Linked DNA regions of Homo sapiens. The protein of the gene in region 4 purifies or fractionates together with the protein of the main gene of each other region. This does not show direct contact. Each region holds a gene or a part of one and is shown on either strand. Other genes may lie near its edges. The genes, in order: EFL1, CAMKK2, OPA1, INSYN2A, RUNDC1, PRUNE1 and IQSEC1.

Region 1 (3,500 bases), on a different chromosome or scaffold from region 4:
AAAATTCCTTTGCAGAGTAATGAGAGTCTAAAAGAAATCAATCATGAATGATCTCAATGACAGAAGAAGGAAGAAAGCCCCTCCTCAACCCCTATTTTAAGAGGACATGCACAGTAGAAGGAAGAAGAGGATACCAACTCAGGTGGATCAGTAGCATGTCCAAGATGCTCAAAATCAAAACAAGCTGAGTGTATGTACCAAAGTAAAAGAGCTAAAGACAGTGCAAAGAGCTTTTTCCAATACTGGTTGAATATCTCTTCTCCAAAATGAGTGGGACCAGAAGTGTTTTACATTTTTTATTTTTTTAGATTTTGGCATATTTGTATTATATACTGTTTGAGCATCCCAAATTAAAAAATAAAGGCTGGGCAGGGTGGGATTACGCCTGTAATCCCAGCACTTTGGGAGGCTGAGGCGGATGGATCATGAGGTCAGGGGTTCGAGACCAACCTGGCCAACATAGTGAAATGCCGTCTCTACTAAAAATATAAAAATTAGCCAGGTGTGGTGGCATGCGCCTGTAGTCCCAGCTATTCGGAAGGCTGAGGTGGGAGAATTGCTTGAACCCAGGAGGTGGAGGTTGCAGTGAGCTGAGACCATGCCATTGCACTCCAGCCTAGGTGACAGAGTGAGAATCCATCTCAAAAAAAAAAAAAAAAAAGTTTCAAATTTTAGATGATTTGGGATTTTGGATTTTCAGATTTGGGATACTCAACCTATACTTTCAAAATAAGGAGACATGTCTTGTCTACAACTTATAGAAACTAGTATCATGTTACAGAGGATAGCAAGAAAATAGGGGTTCGCAATACCTATGTTACCTATCTTTCTCTTCAGTGAGGAGAATGGTGAACAAACTATAGCAAGTGGAACAAGTTGAAGTGGGAGAACACTGAAGTTCACGGTAGCTCAGCAGTTGATGACTAAGTGCTTGGCCTTCTTAAATGAGTTCAAGTCTCCAGGACCAGAATTATATCTCACCATAATAAGAGAATTTGCCCTTTTGAGAAATTATGAATAGTAAGGTAGGTGCCAGACTATAGGAAAAAGGTAAATAATGACTAAACTTTTTGAGGATATAAACACTGCGTTCCATAAATTGCAGACTAGAAAGCCATATGCTAATTTTCTGTAGAATTTTAAGGAAACACTATAGACATTTGTACATGTTTATACAAGTATGAGGTAAATCTTGGGAGACAACATGGACTTTCTAATACAAAATACTAACCTAAGCTTTTTTTTTTTCTAACATGATTGGTAAGCTGATAATTGGGGGACTGTTATAGATGTAAAGGACCGTAACTTCATCGAAACATTTGATTTTCTACCTGTTGAGTTTTATTTCTCATCAGACAAGGACACATGAAAAAAATGAATAAGAAATCAATGTGTTAAGATGGTGGTGATGTGACTTCTTTTTCTTGCCATTAAAATTTTTCTCCTGTTTACTGTTGTAATGCTAATTATGTTATATAACTTAAGAAAAAAATTAAGTGTATAGACTCAGTACTCATAAGAAAAAAATTAAGTGTATAGACTCAGTACTCATACACAAATAAATATAGGAGTTCATACAACTACATGATTTCTACAGTCTAGTCAATTACCAAAAATTTGGATTCTGCTTTTTGGGGAACAGAGTGGGAAAACATAACTTTGTTTTGAAAAAAAAGAAATAGGGTTGATCTTGACTTCTCATATGAATTAATGAGAAGACGTAATTGTTAAATTTCATTAAAAGAAGAATGTTGTATTTCATGTAGGAGGTAACAGTGTAGACACAGACATGTTCTCTACTGGTTGGAGGGTATGTGAGGTGCTGTGTTCAAATATAGTTGCTTTAAGAGGGATGCTGACCAAATAAATTATGTCCAAAAGACAGCAACTGAAATGGTGAAAGGATACAGAAATCCTAACAGAAAAACAGGTGAAGGATTTGGAGTTTTTCTCCTGGATATAAAACTAGAAAACTAATGATTTATTTCAAATACATAAAAGAGTTGTTGCATGGAAGAGAGATGAATGGTGGTACAGATGATTGGAAACTAGCAGGTGACAGACATTTTGCTCAATATAGAAAAAAACACCATTAAATCACGAAGCTGGCTGTGCACTGGCCATCAATAGAAGTATTCAAATAGTGGTGGTATAAGCATTTGTCGGGGTAGGAGAGGCTGGAGAAAAGCTCTTAGGTCTTCTTCAAAGATTTGAGGGATTAAGATTTGATTTTAACTCTTACTTCCGCCTTAAGAAAGTTCTCAATGAAAATGAAAAATAGCATCTGAGAATAGTCTAGATTGGTGTTTCCCAAACAAATCTACAAATTCCATGGCTGTTAATAGGCATGCTATATTCAAATAAGGTTGAAAAGCACTGTATATGACATGCTGTATTTGGAGATTTGATTCACAATGCATACTGGCCTTAACCCAGCTATTTTTCAAATGCTGCTAATGACGCTCAGTCTCACAAAAACCTTAATGTGATGGAAGCCTAAATTTCTTTTGGGAAAAAAAACAAACAAACTTAGATTTCTGCTTTCAGGAATTAATCAGCAAAAGAACCTTCCTAAAAAGAATGTAATTAACCACATATTGACTCAAAGGGCCTCAGGGTTAGAGGAAACTTAATAATTTGGCCGATTCTCTCATCCAGGGCTCAATCCTCCTTTATATTCTCTTCACTACTGAAACAGTTCCATGATCTTGAGAGAATAAGAGAACTACTGTGTGCCAGGTGCTGTTCTGGGCACTGTATTTAAAAAAATTGTGTTATTTTAATCTTCACAATCTGTATGAATTATTATCCCCTTTCTTTACCTATGTAAAGAAACTAAGTCTCAGTGAACTAATACCAGTGAAAAGTCCAAAGAGCTACTAAGTGCCAGGGCTTCATGTCTCCTGGGATCTTAAAGGTTGCTTCTCCCAAAGAGAGAAAAATCAGGAATAGGATTTGATATAATGGTTAGCAGTGAATAAAGCCCCAAATAATTTTCTTTCTCAGAAAGAACCCAGAATTCACAAAAGCCCTTTTGTGTTATGAGTACAAGAATGTTGCCTTATTCTTTGATCATTTTCAGAACAACTTTGGTTACCCAGACTGATATGGTTATTTGCTTGAGATAAAATATGGCACAGGTTTGGATGGTAACACATATGAGCAGTTTAAACCTCATTTAGCAGACCTCTCATTACGGAAAGGATTCTATTTGTTGCAAAAGAAAAGATCTTTAGTAGTCATGTTTTTCCCCTCTCAAGATTTTAATACTTAAGATATCTGGCTTTCAAAGATCTTAGTTTGTTAGTAAATCAGAAGATGGTACAGCTTCTGCAAAACATACTAAACGAGTTTAAGATTTTTGGGTCTGCCAGGTGCAGTGGCTCACGCCTGTAATCCCAGAACTTTGGGAGGCCAAAGTGGGTGGATCACTTGAACTCAGGAGTTCGAGACCAACCTGGGCAACGTTGCGAAACTCAGTCTCTACAAAAAACACAAAA
Region 2 (3,500 bases), on a different chromosome or scaffold from region 4:
AACACCAGCTTCATAGAGCTGGAGCCAGGGTGGCGTTGACAGCAGATGAGTGGACACCTCTCTGCATGGACACACAGGGTCCTGAGTGAGACCACACTGCTCGCCCAGCACAGAGCCTCAAACCTCCCCATCAGGCACTCACGGTCCCGGGCCACAAAAGTGCTTTTCTTCTGACTGACCAAGAGCCCCCCAGCTACAGTGCAAGTTCCCGAGAAAGGTAAACTTCAGGTGGATTAGCTGTCAGCAAAAGGAGGTGGGCTGAGCCCAGGTTGGGGTGCTGACTGTCCCAGTGCACCAGGTGGGTTTCATCTGAGTCTCTCCAGATGGCACCACTTCAGGGAGGACCTGTGCAGAGTGGTCTGGGCAGGGCTGCCCCAAGCCTAGCCTCCAGCCACCACTCCCCCACCCAAGAAGGCAGGCGGCCACTCACGTGAGCAAGTTTCCAGGCGCTGACAGTGAGCGTTCCTCCCGCCGGCTGCCCTCGAATGGGTTCCCAAAGGAGCGTTTACGTATCATGGTCTTCACCAGGATCTGAAGAGGGAGAAAAGAGGAGGTGGCAGGCAACTGCTTGGCCATGTGGGGGCGATTCTGGGCAACATCCTCCCTCTTCCTTCTCCCCAGCCCCTGCCAGCTCCCAGGGCTGGTGACCGATGGCAGACTTTGAGAGAAACTGGGCAGCACCACCCCGCAACCAACCCCCGCCGAAAGAATCCTCTGGGAAAAGGTGCTGTCCTGCACCACACCCTCAGCCACTGCTCAGCGTCTCTCCCAGGCCTCCCTGCTTTCCACCTCCCTCCCTCCCATCCCTTCCAAAACCCAGATCTGGTCCCCTCACTCCCTGACTCAGCATCCCCACCCAGAGGGGTCTGGAACTTGGCCTGTGGTCAGCCAGAGAGCCCCGGAAAGTTCTGGAGCAAGGACGTGAACCAGTCATTCTTGGTGATGCTCTTGGCTGCCATTTCCCATGAAGGGAATGGCCTGAGGGCCCCATAAGAGTCACTGGGCCCCTCACCCCACCCCAACCAGGGCACGGTGCCCCTTCAAGCTGTTTTGGGAATTCACAGAGCTTCTGACTTTTTAAGCATTTGCTGCTAACAAGAAAAATAAGTGTTTAAGAAACACTGATTTACCAAAAGATGCAAACACCCAAATGCCCATCAACTGAAGAAGATAAACTCAAAGCGGTCTGTCTGTGCAATGGAACATGATTCAGCCATAAGGAGTGAAGCACTGATCCATGCTACAACACAAACGGACCCTGAAAACCTTCTCCTACGTCAAAGTAGCCAGGCCCGAAAGGCCTCAGAGTGTAGGATTCCACCAGAATACACAAATCTATAGACACAGAGGGCAGGTGAGTGGGTGCCAGGGCTGGGGGGAGGTGAATGGAGAGTCATTGCTGATGGGCGGGGGTGTGAAGTAATGAAAATGTTCAGAACTATTGAGGAGATAATTGCATGTCACTGTGAATGTCCCAAATGTCACTGAATTGTTCACTTTAATTTTATGTTATGTGAATTCTACCTCAATTTAAAAGAAGGAGCGGGGGGGGGGAGGCGGGCGTGGTGGCTCATGCTTGTAATACCAGCACTTTGGGAGGCTGAGGCAGGTGGATCACCTGAGGTCAGGAGTTTGAGACCAGCCTGGCCAGCATGGAGAAACCGCGTCTCCACTAAAAATACAAAAATTAGCTGGGCATGGTGGTAGGCACCTGTCATCCCAGCTACATGGGAGGCTGAGGCAGAAGAATTGCTTGAACCTGGGAGGCGGAGGTTGCAGTGAGCCAAGACCACACCACTGCACTCCAGCCTGGGCAACGAGAGCAAAACTCCATCTCAAAAAAAAAAGAGAGAGAGAATGAAGGCCTCTTCCCCTACTGAGGTTCTTACAGTCACTGGGACATGCCAGCCCCTCTTTCCTCTGTGTCTGAGCAGATGTCACTCCCCAGGTGAGCCCACCCTGCCGCCTCCCCTGTGGCCTTGTCAACCCAGAGCAGGAGCTCCTCCTCTGTGAAGCCCCCAGCCCTTGCATCTCTCTGCACTGGCCTCTGATCACACAGGAGGCTGATTCTTCCCAGGTCCATCTTTCTTATAAGGCCAGGAGCCCCTCCCCCAGCCCCCCAGCCCCCTACCCCTGAGAGCAGGCACTGGGCTAAGCTCATCTTTGACACCTATGCCTGGCACACACTGGCTGCTCCGTGTTTGCTAAATGATGAACACATGCAGGGGGCCTGGACCTTGCCATCTTGTCCCAAGTCAGACCACTTCCCAGTATCTACCCGCCCATCCCTGCTCCAGCTGCCCTGGTTCAAACCCTGATTCAAACCCATGCTCTTGGAGTAAACATGTAAAACCTCGCCACACCCTCCCTCCACCTTCCTTGCCCTGCTTCAGTGGCCCCACCCAGTGTGTTAGCCCGTCCGCCCTCTCTCGGCGGAGTTAACACCCTACCATCCTCTCGGTGTCTATCCACTTCTTCCCAGTGGGTCCAAGTGTGCCTCCATTAGGGGCATGTCCTGTGGTCCCTCTACTGCACTGTACATACATTTGTTGGTTTGACCAGCATCTGCCTCTCAAGCATGGCAGAGGCCATGGGGGTTTTGTTCATCACTCCACCCAGCCCCTGCTCCCAGCACAGGCCTGAGAAACCACTCGGTGTTCAACAAGTGTTTCCCGTATAATGAATGCCTACTCCAGACCTCCAGGGCCAGACGCTTTCTCCCAAGAACCCGTCCCAGAGACCCAGGAAGGAAAGGGAGGGCAACTGATTCAGGACTGAGAACCTCCTGAGCCTGGAACACAGTAACCCACGGTGGGTGCAGAGTCCGACGCCAGCTGTCTCCTCGTCTACAGGCACAAGGGGTGGTTGAGGAAGGGTGAGTGGGTGTGGGTGGGTCTTCAACAGTGAAGGTCCTGCACAGCCCCAGGTGGGGAAAGAGTGGAGGAAGATGTGGATGGATGCCCCAGCCAGGGCTCAGCTTTGGGAGGAGGAGAGAGGAAGTGTGTGGGGAAGCAGAGAAGAGAGGTGCAAAGCTGGAGGAGCAGGAGCAGCATCTGGGCTCCTACAGGGGCAATCCTTCACAGCTGGACCTTCTGTGCCTTTCCAGCCAGTCTCAAGGGTCCCTCCCAGAGCCCAGGGGCCCGCCGGCCCACTGGGACTAGTGCTGGCCAACTGCAACCAGGCCTTTCGAGGTGGCTGTGGTGGGACAACCTGCTGGTCTCTGTCCCCAAGCCTGCTGCCTGGAACCTGGATCCCTGGGACTCTTGGTCTCTCTCTTGGAGCTAACTGCCCTCCTGGACAGGGACTTGGTCAGTGGCGATTCCCAGAGCCTCCAAGGTTAGGCCTGAGGACTCTACATTCTGGCTCCTTCTTCCTGGGTCAGGATCCAAATTCAAGGCCATAAAAGGGGACCTACTTGCTCCTAAGCAATTCTCACTCTCAGGAGATGGGCAGAACTTTCTGAGTGTGTGCGTGGAAGTCCCTGCCCCTACCCCTGGTGG
Region 3 (3,500 bases), on a different chromosome or scaffold from region 4:
TATTCAGGAGGCTGAGGCAGGAGAATCACTTGAACCCAGGAGGCAGAGGTTGCAGTAAGCTGAGATCACACCACTGCACTCCAGCCTGGGCAACAGAGTGAGACTCCACCTCCAAAAAAAAACAAACAAACAAACAAAAAAAAAACAAAGAAGGAGGAGGAGGAATCAAGGAAGACAGGAGCAATGCTGTGAAGAATGGTATGGGGATATGGGAAAAGCGGTATCTCTTGTGTTCCTATACATACCAGACATTACGCTAGCTGTTTTCACTACAGCATAACTATATAAATGTTAACTCTCAGAAACACCGAGTAAGGTTAAGTATCCTTATTTTACAAATTTTTTTTTTAAGTATTGTTAAAGCAAACTAAATATGGCCTGAGAAGGACTCCATACTTCTATATTTGTGTTCTTGTGGACAAACCATAACCTAGCACAATAGGCAGACAAAATGGAAAACCTGAGTAGTATGCATCTGTAATAATAGCTGAGTGTTGGCCAATCCCAGTGGCCATACTTCAAGCACTAATAGACTGCTAAGTGTTCAAACTGCATTCAATTCTGGAGGCTGCCTGATTTGCAAAGTGTTTATTTTCCTTGCTTAATTAAACTCCATCAAATTTAACTTGTCTGAAGTTTTCTTTTAACAGATCTGGTGTCAGAAGTGGGATTTGAAGAAAAACTCTGGCAACCCCCTGGAACACCAGGTGACCTGGTGAGGTACCCACTGAGGCCGTTGCTCTCACTGGTCTCTTGATTGTAACTGGAGGTCATGGGTGAGTTTTCTCTCAGATTCCGAGCTCCACTAACTTGTGTTTTGAGCTCTCCGAGTTTACTCAAGCAATACTTAGCCTGGACTGGATCCAAGATCAAATTGGATTTGATAATTAACTGGATTGGATTCAGTTAGAGGCCTCAGACCTCTGATAAGTACCTTATTTAATAATGGGATCATCTCAATCCAAGGAGTCTGGGACTCCATCTTCAGGGACTCCAGCTAATTTTACGTATAAAAATTATGGGCCCAGAACATGTGCATTTTCAGTAAAATGGGTTAACCTCACTAAAGAAAACTTAGAATTAAAATGGCCACAATGGAGAAGTTTTAATTTGGATAAAATTGTTTGCAAGGCATATTAGAAAAAGGGGATCAAAGCCCCCACAAATACAGTGGGATGTATTGTCTCATGGATACGCAAAGGCCTCCAAAAGACTAAGTGAATCAAAAAGTGCCTCCTTAAAAGATTCTTTGCAAAAACCAAATGAAAAGCTTAAGCAACAGACCAAGGACATGAAGAAAGAGGACTGTACTTTGACTGATCTAACTCGGACTGTTCCTTCTTTGTCCATCTCTACCTACATACTCTGAGTCCACTAAACTTTTTGTTAAATTACACTTTCACCCTGAAGATGATTTAAAAAAAAAAAAAAAAAAAAAAGGAAGTTAGACAGATGTCTTACAAAGTGAGACCTTATATCAGCCAGGCCTGCCTGCTGTAACTACTTTCACTCCATGGTCTAAAACTGAGCTTAGCCCCATTGTGAAGGACTTCCCTGGTCCAAGGGAAAAGTCTCAAAAATTTACTGAGGAATTTAGAATCCTAATAGGAGCTTACGATCCAGGACTTCATGAATTTACCAATTTATTCATATGATACTGGGGGCTGGTGAAGCTCAGAAATGGATGGCAGCAGCAGAATGGGACAAACCTGAGGAGGACATTTTAAAGGGCCCTCTAAGAGCTCCTCACAAGAAGGACCAAAAATAGCTAGAAAAATCGCTGAAAACCTTTTAACATTCAGTTCCTAAAATTTTTCCACAAAAAATTGGTCCATCATACAATCTTGTAAGCAAAAAAAAAAGAAAAGAAAAGATGAACCAGTTTCAGATTACAGAAGTCGCTTAGAAATATTTGTGAAACATCCTGGGCTCAAAGTACAGCAAGGAGTATTCCCTGCAGGGGCTGAAACAGCATTAACTGCTTTACTTATAAATGGACTCCATCCTGAACTTAGCAGTTTAACTAAAAAACATAAGTTGCAATGGGAAGTTAGAGATGTGACTGAATTGGTGGCCTTAGCTGAACTTTTTTTTTTTTTTTTTTTTTTTTTGAGGTGGAGTCTTGCTCTGTCACCCAGGCTAGAGTGTAGTGGCGCAATCTCGGCTCACTGCAACCTCTGCCTCCCAGGTTCAAGCAATTCTCTTGCCTCAGCCTCCCGAGTAGCTGCGACTACAGGCGTGTGCCACCATGCCCAGCTAATCTGTGTATTTTTAGTAGAGATGGGATTTCACCATCTTAGCCAGGATGGTCTTGATCTCCTGACCTCGTGATCCTCCCACCTTGGCCTTCCAAAGTGCTGGGATTACAGGCGTGAGCCATCGTGCCCAACCTAGCTAAGCATTTTGAGAAGACTCTAGAGCAAAAAAAACCTCAAAAGGCTAATAAGCTTATGCCCCTTCAATTGCAACAGTTACAGGGACCAGGAACCAAAGGGACCATCTCGTTCTCATTTTAAATCACAATCGGGCGGTTCCAAGATGGCCAAATAGGAACAGCTCCAGTCTACAGCTCCCAGCTTGAGCGACGCAGAAAACGGGTGATTTCTGCATTTCCAACTGAGGTACTGGGTTCATCTCACTGGGGATTGTCAGACAGTGGGTGCAGGACAGTGGGTGCAGCGCACCGAGCATGAGCCAAAGCAGGGCGAGGCATCGCCTCACCCAGGAAGCACAAGGGGTCAGGGAATTCCCTTTCCTAGCCAAGGAAAGGGGTGACAGACAGCACCTGGAAAATTGGGTCACTCCCACCCTAATACTGCGCTTTTCCGATGGTCTTAGCAAACAGCACACCAGGAGACTATATCCCGCGCCTGGCTCAGCGGGTCCTATGCCCATGGAGCCTCGCTCATTGCTAGCACAGCAGTCTGAGATCAAACTGCAAGGTGGCAGCGAGGCTGGGGGAGGGGTGCCCGCCATTGCGGAGGCTTGAGCAGGTAAAAAAAGCAGCTGGGAAGCTCGAACTGGGTGGAGCCCACTGCAGCTCAAGGAGGCCTGCCTTCCTCTGTAGACTCCACCTCTGCAGGCAGGGCATAGCCGAACAAAAGGCAGCAGAAACCTCTGCAGACTTAAATGTCCCTGTCTGACAGCTTGGAAGAGAGCAGTGGTTCTCCCAGCACACAGCTTGAGATCTGAGAACAGACAGACTGCCTCCTCAAGTGGGTCCCTGACCCCCGAATAGCCTAACTGGGAGGCACCCCCCAGTAGGGGCAGACTGACACCTCACATGGCCGGGTACCCCTCTGAGACAAAACTTCCAGAGGAACGATCAGGCAGCAACATCTGCTGTTCACCAATATTCGTTGTTCTGCAGCCTCCGCTGCTGATACCCAGGCAAACATGGTCTGGAGTGGACCTCCAGCAAACTCCAATAGACCTGCAGCTGAGGGTCCTGACTGTTAGAAGGAAAACTAACAAACAGAAAGGACATCCACACCAAAAAC
Region 4 (2,662 bases):
GAGAGGTAGGCGCTCAGCCTATCTCCCACTAGGGAGGGGAAGAAGAAAGGAAGGAGGCGGCTGATCCCTTGAGGCTGGGGATGTGCTCAATGGAAGATCTAGAGAGAAGCTACCTCCCCTGGGCCATGGAGGCAAGATTTACATGCCACAGTGTACTGTGGCAACACTCAATGTATTTAGCCATTTCTTCTGAGGTTAAGAATTAAACCTCATATACCTCCTGCTATGAGCCTGTGTGCATCCTAAAATGCCACCATGTGTTCCGGTGGTGAAACTCCATGCCAGGGTGCATAGGTGGGCAAGCGTCAGTCCCTTCCCTCCCCAAGCCAGGCCAGCTCTGGCTGGTGGGTCAGGCCCAGGCCTTACGATGCTCTTGTCTTCTGCAGACCGGATGAAATGCCTATCGGCCCAAACATTCTTCCTTTATTATTATTTTCTTAGATTACTTTTATGTTCCCCAATTTTTGAGGCCATGAAATAAGTTTAATAGCCACATAAAACATCTTTGATTTTTTTATTTAAAAATTAATAAAGAACTTAACGACAAGTATAATAATTTAATCTCTATATGCAATGCCATGTGTACATCTACATAAGGGAACCCTGTGCGTTTTACCTTGCTTTTGTATCAGCGTTTTTACTTGAATCTTTCCAAGAGAAGAATCACCATCTGTTAGTGACGTGTTGCAATTAAACTATGAAATGATTTTGACAATAGTTTTTCTATTTTGAACACACTTTAATTTTTAGGGATGAATTAATTTATCTTCAGAAGTTCCTTTTTGACTCTGAACATTTTAATTTTATTTTTTTTTGGTCTAGACTGGTGTGAAACAGTGACATTATTTTGTGTACTAGGATGTCCTCTTGTTTAGACAGATTTGTGTTACTAATTAGAAAACTGCTAATACCCTTATTTCAATTTACTGAGATAGTTGGGATTCTTAAAACATAAGGAGAGAGAACTTGTTGGAAACATTTTTATAACTTTAGTTAAAAACAGTATAAAAAACATGAAACCCATTTTTAAATATTTAGTCTACGTGAAACAGTTACACTTCCTTCATGTTACAGGATCAACTTCCTCATTGTTCTTGCACCAAAATATTTCTCAGTTCCTTTTATTGATATTCAGGGATTCGAACTTCATATAGTGTTTCCGCAGAGGATGTGTGTGTGCACATGTGTGTTTTAAATTAAAGCATACAACTGCAGTGTTGTTTGGCCCCCGAAGAATGTTTACACGACATACTCTTCATTTTTTTTTCAAGGCCCGATCTGGTTACTGATCACTAGGTCCTTGTAGAATCAAAACACTTAGAACTAAAACAGATTTGCTGTTGAGTCAGGAGGAAAATACATGGCAAGAAGCAGCTCCAATCTGACAAAAGCAGGTGAGATCCTTTTACCAAGGTTAGCCACTGTGTGTTTGGCATCTAGTCAATGAGGTGTGCATGTCAGCACTCCACTAGATGTGAAACTGCTGGACAGAAACTTCAAGACTAGGTTTTCCTGTATGCTCACAAACTATTCAAAATTTAAGTTGTACAAAAAAAAAAAAAAAGGCAAAGTAAGATCCCTACTTCCTATTGTGAAAATCAAAAAATTGATAGACAAAGTCATTAATAGACTAGGGGATTTGATTTCTATAAAAAGATACTTGCAAAGGTGCAAAGAAATGAGTGAAAAAATAAAGGAACTAAGATTTACATTGCAATGTGTAATCAAGAGAGAACTCTAAGTGTTACTGTTGATTTAAAAAATACCTAAAAACATTTGATTCACAGCTTTCCCCTAAGTATGTTGTTTAGTACAACTTACTAATAGGTTAAATGTAGGCGACATTGTCCCTTGGTAGCAGCTAAACTAAACGCACTGTTTCTCTTTGAGATGGTCAGGGCTTCCACCATTAATACAAAGCATAACGAATTGTACATAACGTCTGGCTGCACTTACCATGGCTAACAGTGTCTCGGAGGATCGATCCACAAAAACACTGTCTGCCATGGCACAGAATGCCTGTGATTTATTGGTGGGTGGATTATCCATCGTGTATCTCTATGTATGTTCTCAGATTCTTGCCAGAATGTATTATTTGGCCTTTGGGTACCAAAAGATTAAAAATGAGATCTAAGAAAACTTAGTGTCCAATAGCTCTGACCCTGTCTACTTGCAGTGATTAAAGGCATATCCTGACTTTGGGGGACTCCTGGCTGCTGGCCATTTGGAAAATGAGCAGTAAACATGTCGTAAGTCTGGAGATGAAGAGGATGCTAAATTTGAGGTGTCGTTGTGACACTGAGATGTGGTCACTTGGCTTAGCGCTATAGCACATGAAGGCAAATATACATATAGTCACATTTTAGAGATTATTCATGGTCTCCGACCACTTGAAAAAATTGTGCTTTCTCCGGAATTTGATGTGCTGAAAATTGCACTCGCCCCCTGCTTATTTGCAAAATGAAACATAAAAATGAAGTCCTTCGCAAACATAAGGCTTGCTTTTTCTTCTCATTATTTAAAAAAAAAATCAAGGCTTGAAAATAATTATGAGTTATAGCTGTGTACAGGGTGACAGCCTGCCATCTCGCAGGTTGATAATGTATTACTTGCAGATCGGGGGTGGGGGAAAATTTTTACTTATCATCTTTGACTACGTAAG
Region 5 (3,500 bases), on a different chromosome or scaffold from region 4:
GTTTCACCATATTGCCCAGGCTGGTCTTGAACTCCTGGGCTCAAGCAAGCCACCCACCTTGGCCACCCAAAGTGCTGGATTACAGGCATGAACCACTGTACCCCGCCAATTTTTTTTTTTTTCTTGAGACAGAGTCTCACTCTGTCGCCCAGGCTGGAATGCAGTGGCACCATCTTGGCTCACAGCAACCTCCGCCTCCTGGGTTCAAGCGATTCTCCTGCCTCAGCTTCCCAAGTAGCTGGGACTACAGGTGCCCGTCACCACGCCTGGCTAATTTTTGTATTTTTAGTAGAGATGGGGTTTTGCCATGTCGGCCAGGCTGGTCTCGAACTCCTGGCCTCGAACGCCTGACCTCATAATCTGTCCGACTCGGCCTCCCAAAGTGCTGGGATTATAGGTGTGAGCCACCGTGCCCGGCCCTAAATTTTTATTTTCCACTCTGTTGCCCAGGCTGGTGTGCAGCAGCATGATCACAACTCACTGCATCCTCAACCTCCTGGGCTCAATCCATCCTCCCAGCTCAGCCTCCCAAGTAGCTGGGACCACAGGCGCACACTACCATGACTAGCTAATTAAAAAATATATTTTTTCTGTAGAGGTGGGGCTCTCCCTATGTTGCTCAGCTGGTCTCTGACTCCTGGGCTCAAGCCACCCTCCCACCTTAGCCTCCCTAAGTGCTGGGATTACAGGCATGAGCCACTGCACCTGGCCCCCAGTTTTTTTTTTTTTTTTTTGAGACAGAGTCTGGCCCTGTCACCCAGGCTGGAGTGCAGTAGCATGATCTCAGCTCACTGCAACCTCCACCTCCTAGGTTCAAGCTGTTCTGCTGCCTCAGCCTCCCTAGTAGCTGGGACTGCAGGCATGTGCCACTATCCCCGGCTAAATTTTGTATTTTGAGTAGAGACAGGGTTTTGCCATGTTGGCCAGGCTGGTCTCGAACTCCTGACCTCAAGTGATCCACCCACCTCAACCCCAAATATTTTAAACCAATATTTTCTCTTATCTTACTTCATACTGGAAATGATTTATGTTATTTCCTGCTTTGCACCAGAGCTCATTGTTCTCTCTTGTTTGCCCACACTCCAGCAAATAGCATATCGTAGCTACCATGGCAAGTGACAGAGTTCAACAGACTTGGTCATGAAAATGGAATCAAAATTTATGGCTGATTTCTTTCTTCCCTGACATAAAGTTGGGTAACAGTGAGAACAAAAACAAAAGACTTTTCCACAGTTCTTTCTCCTTAGGCTGGTTAGACAACTTTCTCCACTCAGAGTTCATTATTTGGAATTTGTCATTCTTTTCTTTTTCTTTTTCTTTCTTTCTTTTTTTTTTTTTTTTTTTTTTTGGACACAGAGTCTTGCTGTGACACCCAGGCTGGAGTGCAATGCTGCGGTCTTGGCTCACTCCAACCTCCGCCTCCTGGGTTCAAGCCATTCTCCTGCCTCAGCCTCCCAAGTAGCTAGGATTACAGGCACGTGCCACCACACTGGGCTAGTTTTTGTAGAGACGGGGTTCCACCATGTTGGCCAGGCTGGTCTCGAACTCCTGACCTCAGGTGATCTGCCTGCTTTGGCCTCCCAAAGTGCTGGGATTACAGGCATGAGCCACTGCGTTCGGCCATACTTTCCTTAATTCAGTTCAGTAACATACAACAAATGCATGTTGAGAACTTATCTTGTGCCAGACACTGTGCCTGGCATTTGTGGTTCAAAGTCAAAACCTTTGTCCTTAAGGAGTTCATAGACTAGAAGAGACAGAATCCTAAACAAATAATGTGATATGAGCTAGACTAGAAGTGTGAACAACCTCTAGAGGAAATGTTTAGTTATGCCTGGGGAAATCAGGAAGCCTCTTAAAGGAGAACTAGGCCTTCACCAAATGGGGAAGTGGGATAGGGTTCTAACAGTATGCAACTGCGCTCTGAAAGGATTACAGAGGGACTGCCCTGAGAAAAGGCTTGCTTTCATGTTGAGCAAAGTTAAAGCAAGAGGATTGCATTTTAAATACTTAAACAAAAAGTTAATTTGTTGTTTTCTTTTTTTTTTTTTTTTCATTTCTTCTCTCTCATTACTTACTTCTTCAGGGCTTGGTAAGTACCGTTTTAAGGTTAAATGTAATACGCTGTAGACTTCTAGTTTAAGACGCAGCCTTGCCCCTACAAATGATTTGCTGGTTTTGCTTTTTGTTTTTGAGACTCAAGAAAGACAAGGAAGAACCAGTGTTTGAGAATACGTTGACAAGACTTTACCACCCTGAAGCATTTTTATTAGTTGAAATGCAGAAACTACTGGTGGCCAACAGTTGAAAAAGGAGTCACTAGTCAGCAAAACTTACAGATACTTTTTTTTAAAAACGTTGTTACCTTCACATCCCCATTATGTGGCTTTTGGTTTTTTTTCACTGGCCTAGGCACTTGCCTTTTACTCTTTTGTTTTTGGTTTTGGTTTTTTGAGACAGAGTCTTGCCCTATTGCCCAGGCTGGAGTGCAGTGGTGAAAACAAAGCTCAATGCAGCCTCAACCTCCTAGACTCAAGCCATCATCTTGTCCCAGCCTCTTGTGTGACTGGGACCACCATGCCACCACGCCTGGCTAATTTTTTTTTTCTTTGAGACAGGGTCTTGTGAAGCCTTGACCTCTTGTGCTTAAGCAATCCTCCCGCCTCGGCCACTCAAGTAGCTGGGACTACAGGCATGCACCACCATGCCCAGCTAATTTTTAAAAATTTTTTTGTGGAGATGAAGTCTCACTGTGTTGCCCAGGGTGGTCTCGAACTCCTGGGCTCAAGTGATTCTTTTGCCTTGGCCTCCCAGAGTGCTGCAGTTACAGGCGTGAGACACCACTCCTGGTGCGTTTGATTCTTTTGATTTTTCAGAAGTGGTCTATCGTACATCAAAGGGACTTTGGTGAACCTTAGGAAAGCTGGTTATGAGTTTTTTTCTTTTTTTTTGAGACGGAGTCTCGCTCTGTCACCAAGGCTGGAGTGCAGTGGCGCGATCTCTGCTCACTGCAAGCTCCGCCTCCCGGGTTCACGCCATCCTCCTGCTTCAGCCTCCCAAGTAGCTGGGACTACAGGCGCCCGCCACCACACCCGGCTAATTTTTTTTTTGTATTTTTAGTAGAGACGGGGTTTTACTGTGTTAGCCAGGATGGTCAATCTCCTGACCTCGTGATCCACCCGCCTCGGCCTCCCAAAGTGCTGGGATTACAGGCGTGAGCTACCGGGCCCGGCCAGCTGGTTATGAGTTTTAAAGCCTCTCTCCACACCCTTACCCCAGATTCTTTTGCAAAATTTGGCTGCACAGAGTAATCAGGAGTTGTGTTATGGTAACTGGCTGTGGAGAATGGCATGTCTTAATTCCTGGGAGGCTATCTTGGCTGAGATAGATTGTCTCTACCCTAACTAGACCTTTGGGGGAAAAAAGGCAGTCTTAACAAAAAGCCTCATTGTATTAATATCCTATTTCCAATGAGGGACAGATAGTTTCTTAAAGAAAAC
Region 6 (3,500 bases), on a different chromosome or scaffold from region 4:
AAATGCTTGGATTACAGGCATGAGCCACCATGCCCAGCCGGATAATTCTTTTTTTGTGGAGGCTGTCCTGTGCATTATAGGATATTTGGCAGGATCCCTAGCCTCTACCCACATGGATGCCAGTAGCACCCTAAGTCGTGACAAACAAAAATGTCTCCAGACTTGCTGAATGTTCCCTGGGGGGCAAAACTGCCCCCAGTTGAGAACTACTGGGTTACAAGAAGGTGAAAATCCATATAGTCTGACTTCTTCAATCAGGGAAGATTTGCTAGACTCAAGAGTTTAGCAAAGTGGGAAGGTTCAGAGGAGTAACACATAGCAAAGAATAGTTATCAACTAATGTAACTTTAAGAAAAAAAGGGAATCTAGGGAAACCTAGAATCATCTTCCCTATACAGGCTATCACTCTTCTCTTCCCCCACTGGAAAGCCACAGCTCAAAAAGGGCAATTTTAGAAGACTTCTGGTGGTATCAATTGCCCCATCCAGTTACGAGATAGGTTTTTGTTTTTAAACCACCCTCGTCGCCATCTCCTACTCCCATCCCTGGAGAGAAATACAGAAGACAGAGGTTATCTGTCCGGGTTCTGCCCAAAGGGCCCCTAAAGAAGTTTGCCCTGAGGTCCTCCCCATGCCTATTTCTCTAAGTCTACTTCAAGAGTTTGGAAGCAGGCCGGGCGCGGTGGCTTACGCCTGTAATCCCAGCACTTTGGGAGGCCGAGGCGGACAGATTACAAGGTCAGGAGATCGAGACTATCCTGGCTAACCTGGTGAAACCCCGTCTCTACTAAAAATACAAAAAATTAGCCAGGCGTGGTGGCGGGTGCCTGTAGTCCCAGCTACTCGGGAGGCTGAGGCAGGAGAATCTTTTGCACCCGGGAGGCGGAGGTTGCAGTGAGCCAAGATCGTGCCACTGCACTCCAGCCTGGGTGACCGAGCGAGACTCTGTCTCAAAAAAAAAAAAAAGTGTGGAAGCAAAGGCCCATTCATACTGAACAGCACTGGGGTAGGGGGATTCTTTACTTTTTTCCAAAGCAGTAAGAATTCTACCCAATACCCCAGTCCTATAGTAACTCCTCTGACTTGTAATTCCTCCTCCTGATACCAGAGACCTCTGTTTCCTGGAGACCAAGAACTGCCCAAATGGCTGTGGACCAAAGTGACAGCAAAGCACTTGAGATAAGAGGCTGCAGAAATAACTTGCTCACTGAAGCAGTTAGGGGGAGCGAGTGTTCTCTAGAGAGGAAACTATATAAACATGAGGCATATGGCCCTGACTGGAGGAAAAACATAAGAGCAGTGGAGAAAAGGCAGAGCAAGCAGGAGAGACCTACTGCAGGGTCCAAAGAGATGCTGGAGAACCTTTCCACGCTTATTTACATCAGTGTTGCTTCACTGCAAGCAGCAGCTGAATCAGGTTCAGTTAGATCCTTACCATGAAGAGAATGCTAAGCAGAAAAGCACAAAGTAGGGACCAAATACAGTGGTATGGTTCTGAAGTCAGGAGAAACCATCTACAGAGGAAGGTGAACAATGAACCCCTTGCGCTCAGCCAAACCTAGACAGTAACCAAAAGGAATGAATACAAAAGGAATACTTTGGGACTTGTAGCAAATCTTGGAACTGGAGTGACCAAGGGAGGCAGCAGCATTCCTCTCCCCTGTCAACACCCACTGTCACCCCGGCCTGACTGGACTATTCACCACCCGCAAACCATGATGTGCACATTCCCAGCTCTGCCCTTTGCACTATTTGTTCTCTGTTTGAATGCAGAACTACTATTTGAAAAGATCACAGACTTTGGGGTTGAATTCCAGCTCTGCTTCTTACTTGTTGCAGGACTTTGGACCCTCTAAGCCTCATTTTCCTCATATAAAAATGAGAATAGGCCGAGCGCGGTGGCTCACACCTATGATCCCAGCACTTTGGGAGGCCAAGGTGGGCGAATCACCTCAGGTCAGGGGTTCGAGACCAGCCTGGCAAGCATGGTGAAACTAAAAAGCACAAAAATTAGCCGGGTGTGGTGGCAGGTGCCTGTAATCTCAGCTACTCCAGAGGCTGAGGCAGGGAGAATTGCTTGAACCCGGGAGGCGGAGGTTGCAGTGAGCCGAGATCCCACCATTGCACTCCAGCCTGGGTGACAGTGTGAGACTCCATCTCAAAAAAACAAACAAAAAAAATGAGAATAATATCGTAACCAATTTCATGATGTTGTTAGGAGGATTAAATGAGATAGTACCATAAGTGCCTACGCTGTAAATAGTAAAGATGTGATCTCCCATCTTCTTTCTTTACTTCTCCCCGTTGTTCAAGTCTACCTAATGTCTTTCTCTGTGAAGCCTTCCTGAACACCCAGCCCAGAGAAATCCTCTTCCTCTAAACCTCCAGCTTCTAGCACTTGTGGCTCTGAGACAGACCTTAACTTCTATCTTAAGGAGCTCCCTGTCTTTTCATGGTCATGTATCCCTGATCCTTAACATGGCTTATGTGGTGGGTGACTATATATTTGATTGTTCAAACTGGGACGCTTATGAGAATGAAAAGGGGTGCTATTAATGATTACACAGGGGAAAACCAAGACTGCCCTGGGCAAACCGTGTGTGGGGCTGCCCAACTTATAAGACATCATTCTCTTCTTTATTTAAGAAAAACATGTGTAACCCCTAATTCCAAGCCCATCCTCCACCAGCTGAAAGCACAAGCCAAACAGCCTCAGTTTTCTGACCATCAGAGAAAGAGTTCAGGGAAAATACAGCTATACTTAGCAGCATGAGGAAATCTAAGCTGCCAATGGAAAAAATACAATCTGAGGGCCACAAGTAAATAAATACAAACTTTTTTTCTTTTTTCTTTTTTTTAAAGACCCACTAGTTGGCCAGGCACGGTGGCTCACGCCTGTAATCCCAGCACTTTGGGAGGCCGAGGTGGGCCGACCACGAGGTCAAGAGATTGAGACCATCCTGGCCAACATGGTGAAACCCCGTTTCTACTAAAAATACAAAAATTAGCTGGGCATGGTGGCACATGCCTGTAGTCCCAGCTACTCGGGAGGCTGAGGCAGGAAAATCACTTGAACCTGGCAGGCGGAGGTTGCAGTGAGCCGAGATCATGCAACTGTACTCCAGCCTGGTGACAGAGCGAGACTTTGTCTCAAAAAAAAAAAAAATTAATTAATTAAAATAAATAAATGAATAAACACCCACTAGTTGAAATGACTCTCTTATCCTGATATGTTCTTTGTGGCCTCAAGAGGAGGGGGCAGGGAGGGGATTCTAGGCCTGGCAAAGTAAACCACTTCCCTTCTAAAGCTGAATATGGTATGATAACTACTCTTCAGAATAGTTAATGGGGGAGAAAAATAAACGAGACAGAAAGCCAGAGAGAGACAAACCCTCTCAGCAGAGAAAACAGGAACAATACTGATGCCAGGACTGCAAATTTCTAAGGAGAGCCAGCTCCTGATTCCTGCCTCATGCCTGAGAACTGCACACACTACATTAT
Region 7 (4,177 bases), on a different chromosome or scaffold from region 4:
CAAGATCCTTGCGTACAAACAGAGCCACCCCCTCCAAGTATCTTTGGTATTTCTGGTGCCAATAGGTTTGGTGGCAGAGCGGGGATGGCCTGGGAGTCACAATGCTCAGACTGGGAGCCTGAGAGCTGGAGAAGAGTGAAAAGACCCACAGAAAAGAAAGACAGTGAGCGCTAAGCCCCCTCGGGCCAGCCCCTCTCTTAGGCAGGAAGGCTAGACGAGCTTATTCCAGGAATCAGCAAATCCACCAGAGCCACGTGTTCAAATGCAGGTGGCTGGGCCCCCAACAGATTGAAGCAGACTCTCCAGGGAAGAGTATTGGAATCCATATAGAACATTGTCCCTGCAAAACTGCAATTGGATAGGCTTGGGCAACGCAGCCACAGTGAATAGCTGCATCACGGGAACATCAACCACACCTGGACATTAAAATCATCCGGAAAATGAAAAAGATCCTGAGGCTTGAGCCCTCCCCCAAACCTAGAAACCAGAATGTCTGGGGGTGGGACCCACACAGTTTTTTTTTGTTTTTTTTTTTTTGTTTGTTTCTTTAACTGCTCCTCAAGTGATTCCAGTATAGCTCCTGGGCTACAACCCCCACCCCAGGCTAGTATACTCCAGGGTTCCAGTAGAACTGTGCTGAGCCTCAGTTTCCCCATCTCTAAAATGGGGTTCTTAGTGCCTGCCCAGACAAGGCCTTTGTGAGGATGACATTTCTGAGCATTGGAGGCAAGCAGGCACTGGGCCAAGTAATCTGAATATGAATTGTCACATTTCATCCTCATGACATCTCCCCTCCCCGATGTAACAGCCCTGAGAGTTTAGAATTTCTCTGGCATCAGGCTCCTGGGCCCAGGCAAAGGTGTGGCAGGGAGGAGACAGCTGTCTCAGGAGGACCTATTCCCAGCCACTGGGGTGGAAGTTCCACGCTGGGAAAGGATTTACTATTTGTTTCAGAAAATGCAGCGAGGGCCTTGCCACAGGGAGTGAGAACTTTGGTGTGCTCTGCTCGCATCGACAAACCAACCTGTGAGCTTCTCCACTAAAAAAGCAAGTGAGCATCACAGCGAACCAGAGGCCACCGTCATCCCTCGAACCAGAGGCCACCGCCATCCCCCAAACCAGAGGCCGCCATCCCCCGAACCAGAGGCCACTGCCATTCCCTGAACCAGAGGCCACTGCCATCCCCCAAACCAGAGGCCACTGCCATCCCCCAAACCAGAGGCCACCGCCATCCCCCGAACCAGAGGCCACCGCCATCCCCCGTGGGTTGCCGCCTGGCACTGCTGACGCAGCAGAGGCAGAGGTGTGTTTACTTTCCCTCAGTGGAGGTGACGGGGAGCTGCCACTCTATCAGGGGTTCCACAGGCCCCTGCCATGGTAAGGGGCCTCCATCGATTAGGGAGGCCTTGGGGTAGCCCCCAGAAGGCTCCCCACATACTGCTCCAGGCCTCCTTTTCCTAGCCTTGCGACTGAGCCCAGCTCAAGAGGACTCAGCCATGCTCTCTAACCTCCTAAGGTCTGAGGTCACTGCACAGCCCCAAATGAGTGGGTCCTGGGCAAATAGTTTAGGCAGGTGGAGACCTGACGCTGGGCCTCAACCCCCGCAGCCGAGGGTCCCAGAGGAGGGCAAAGGTTGCTCCTCCTAGAACAGCACAGTGCAGCGCCCAGAGAGCTGTGAGGGAAGCTGGCATTCGAACCCCACTGCCCCCTGGGAAGCCTGGCTAACCGAAGCGCAGGCTTTGGTTTCCATAAATACCCGGGCCCGTGATGTCACCGCCCCGTGCAGACTTTCACAGCCTCTGCTGCTGGCGTGAGGCCCAGCACACAGCCGCTCTGCTGCCAGCCCACAGAACACCTGGGCACACAGCTGGACACTGATGCCTCCGTGCTAGGGACGGTGGGCTGGACCTTCACCTGCCCTTGGAGGACGCAGCATCCTGGCCACTGCCTCAGCCTGCCTGCGACCTTCTATCAGGCATGGCTGAAGGGCTGGCCATGGGCGTGCTGGGCAGAGATTCTCTTCCTAAACAGGCTATGGGCTAAACCAAAGCCAAAACAGTAGGAGCCGGTCTGGGCACCCTGAATGTGGATCTGGGAGGGGGGATACCTGCTCTCACAGTTGGGAATTTCACAGCCTGCTGAAGACCTGCTGACTAATAGCCTTTTTCTCATCGTCATCACCAACAAACACCTCCGCTGCAGGGGCCGAGCGCCGGCATCCCTGCTGGGTGGCCAGCTCCCTCTGCAAGTCACCTGCACATCCACCTGCCCCTCCCCCAACGATGCCCCTCACTCCAGCTCCCAGCTCAGCCGGGCCCCTCTGGCCTCTGGCTTCAGGCAGAAACCTGCCACATATACTCACAAATAGCGTCTTCTGCAAGCCATCCTGTGTGAATCCGTTCTTCCCTGTTCTGGCTCCCTCTCCAGCGGGGAGGCTCAACGTGTTTCCAAGAGGAGCAGGCGGCTCAGGCAAGAAGTGGAGGGGAATAAAATTAAATCGCGGGGCGAGTCACATTCCCGGGGGTGGCGGGCTCCTCCAGGGAGGCTGGGGCGGGAGCGGGGGGCGGCGCCAGCAGCGGGCTGTGGAGGGCCCTGGCACGTAGCGCGCGCTCACACCGTGCCCAGGAGCGAGCGAGGACGTCGAGTAACCGTGGTCGCCAGGCTGGGCGGGGGCGTCCACCTCGCTGCTACCTGGGCCCACCTTGGGGTTTTTCCCTCCCGTCCATCCGGGGTGCGGGGCGCGGGGATGAGGAGGGGAGGGTCGAGAGAAGGCTGCCCCGGGTTTGCTCTCGCAGCATCCGGAGAAGGGGCGGGCGCGCCGGAGCCTCCCCCACCCCCCGCGCCCAAGGAGCAACGTAGTGCGGCCGCGCCGGACCAATCGCCGAGGCGCTGGTCGCCATGGCAACAGCAGCATCAGGCGCGGCCGCTCGGCTGCGCCCTCGCGGCAAAGTCACACACCCGGCGGGGCGCGGGGCGCCGGCCCCTTCCTGGCCCGCGCTGGAAACCTGGAAGTCTGTTGCTAAAATGCACGCGCCGCGCGGAGCCTACGATGACACTACTTTCCAAGGCGGCTTTTCTGCCTTCGGCACTGAGACACGCGAGCCGCGGAGCTCTCGGGGCTCTGGCCCTGGAGTGAGGCCGGCCGACTCCAAGGCTGTCTCTGCCACTGAAGGGCGATGAGACCTTGGCAAGCCGCGTCTCTCCTGGGAGTCTTGATTATGCTACTGTGAAAGGGATCATAACAGCTATACCACGGGGTTCCAGGAGGGCGCACCACGCCAGTAGCTGCACGGTGGATGGCAGAGCAGTCCTCGTTTGTGCCAGTCCTGTCCCAAAGGGGGCTGCACGTGGCTAGGGAGAATTTCTGGTCTAGCTATGGTGCCTCTTCCTCTCCCGAGGACCTTCCATGTGCCGGGCAAGTATCTGCCCTCATGATGTTTACAGTCTAAGGGGAAGCCAGGAAGTAAGTGTGCAGATATAGGATTGCACGTGGTGATAAGGATCAGGATGAAAAGAGAGCAGGAAGAGGGGAGGCAGGGACCCCAAGAGAGGCGGGAAGGAGGCTTCTGCCATCAGACGGGGTGGTCGGGAAGGCCCTCTGTGAGGCACGTGTGGCTGAGACTCGGATGACGCAAGAAGCAGGGGAGGAGCTGGCGTCAAGGCTCTGAGGCGGAAGGCAGCCTGGTGTATTTGACTGGCCCAGAGGAGGCCAGCGTGGTGCAGTGTGCGACAGGGAGGTGGAGGGGAGAAGCGCACATCCATCCTCGGCTCCCACACCCGCCTTTCCCACACAGATTTCTCTCTTCCTGTCTGATGTTCATCTGATCCTCTCTGCTTCCTCATCTGTAAACCAGGAATCCCAGACCTATCTCAGAGGCATGTAGATAATATTCTTCCGTGCACGGTAATCCTCAAGACAACCCCAATGAGGCCTAATACTATCATCCTACTTCACGGGGGAGCGCATTAAAGCCAGAGGTTCAGCAACTGGCCCAAGCCACATAGCTGGCGGGCAGTCTGGCTCCAGAGTCTTGGTTCTTGACTGCTTGAAAGCTGCCTCACTGGGAGGAATAAATGAGAGAGGGAGTAGTTGAGACTGGGAATCGGCTGGATGTGGATGGCAGCCCACAGGGCCATTTCCCTTCCTCTTTCCATTCTCTCCAGATTCACACTCACC

Evidence for each region.
Region 1: the proteins of INSYN2A (region 4) and EFL1 purify together in Homo sapiens (affinity purification with mass spectrometry; 2 studies listed by BioGRID and IntAct, with this or other methods). This does not show direct contact.
Region 2: the proteins of INSYN2A (region 4) and CAMKK2 purify together in Homo sapiens (affinity purification with mass spectrometry; 2 studies listed by BioGRID and IntAct, with this or other methods). This does not show direct contact.
Region 3: the proteins of INSYN2A (region 4) and OPA1 purify together in Homo sapiens (affinity purification with mass spectrometry; one large-scale study listed by BioGRID and IntAct). This does not show direct contact.
Region 5: the proteins of INSYN2A (region 4) and RUNDC1 purify together in Homo sapiens (affinity purification with mass spectrometry; 2 studies listed by BioGRID and IntAct, with this or other methods). This does not show direct contact.
Region 6: the proteins of INSYN2A (region 4) and PRUNE1 purify together in Homo sapiens (affinity purification with mass spectrometry; 2 studies listed by BioGRID and IntAct, with this or other methods). This does not show direct contact.
Region 7: the proteins of INSYN2A (region 4) and IQSEC1 purify together in Homo sapiens (affinity purification with mass spectrometry; 2 studies listed by BioGRID and IntAct, with this or other methods). This does not show direct contact.

Annotation. Positions count from the first base shown.
Region 1 is NC_000015.10:82,147,735-82,151,234, forward strand, and holds part of EFL1 (elongation factor-like GTPase 1), read right to left. Parts: intron 1-3,500. UniProt on the Homo sapiens protein: GTPase involved in the biogenesis of the 60S ribosomal subunit and translational activation of ribosomes.
Region 2 is NC_000012.12:121,244,710-121,248,209, forward strand, and holds part of CAMKK2 (calcium/calmodulin-dependent protein kinase kinase 2), read right to left. Parts: intron 532-3,500; coding exon 431-531; intron 1-430. UniProt on the Homo sapiens protein: Calcium/calmodulin-dependent protein kinase belonging to a proposed calcium-triggered signaling cascade involved in a number of cellular processes. Isoform 1, isoform 2 and isoform 3 phosphorylate CAMK1 and CAMK4. Isoform 3 phosphorylates CAMK1D.
Region 3 is NC_000003.12:193,610,208-193,613,707, reverse strand, and holds part of OPA1 (dynamin-like GTPase OPA1, mitochondrial), read right to left. Parts: intron 1-3,500. UniProt on the Homo sapiens protein: Dynamin-related GTPase that is essential for normal mitochondrial morphology by mediating fusion of the mitochondrial inner membranes, regulating cristae morphology and maintaining respiratory chain function.
Region 4 is NC_000010.11:127,134,930-127,137,591, forward strand, and holds the end of INSYN2A (inhibitory synaptic factor 2A), read right to left. Parts: 3' UTR 501-2,662; downstream 1-500. UniProt on the Homo sapiens protein: Component of the protein machinery at the inhibitory synapses, probably acting as a scaffold. Inhibitory synapses dampen neuronal activity through postsynaptic hyperpolarization.
Region 5 is NC_000017.11:42,983,565-42,987,064, forward strand, and holds part of RUNDC1 (RUN domain-containing protein 1), read left to right. Parts: intron 1-2,086; coding exon of another isoform or gene 2,087-2,092; intron 2,093-3,500. UniProt on the Homo sapiens protein: May play a role as p53/TP53 inhibitor and thus may have oncogenic activity.
Region 6 is NC_000001.11:151,011,449-151,014,948, reverse strand, and holds part of PRUNE1 (exopolyphosphatase PRUNE1), read right to left. Parts: intron 1-3,500. UniProt on the Homo sapiens protein: Phosphodiesterase (PDE) that has higher activity toward cAMP than cGMP, as substrate. Plays a role in cell proliferation, migration and differentiation, and acts as a negative regulator of NME1. Plays a role in the regulation of neurogenesis.
Region 7 is NC_000003.12:13,070,630-13,074,806, forward strand, and holds the start of IQSEC1 (IQ motif and SEC7 domain-containing protein 1), read right to left. Parts: upstream 2,801-4,177; 5' UTR 2,386-2,800; coding exon 2,363-2,385; intron 1-2,362. UniProt on the Homo sapiens protein: Guanine nucleotide exchange factor for ARF1 and ARF6. Guanine nucleotide exchange factor activity is enhanced by lipid binding. Accelerates GTP binding by ARFs of all three classes.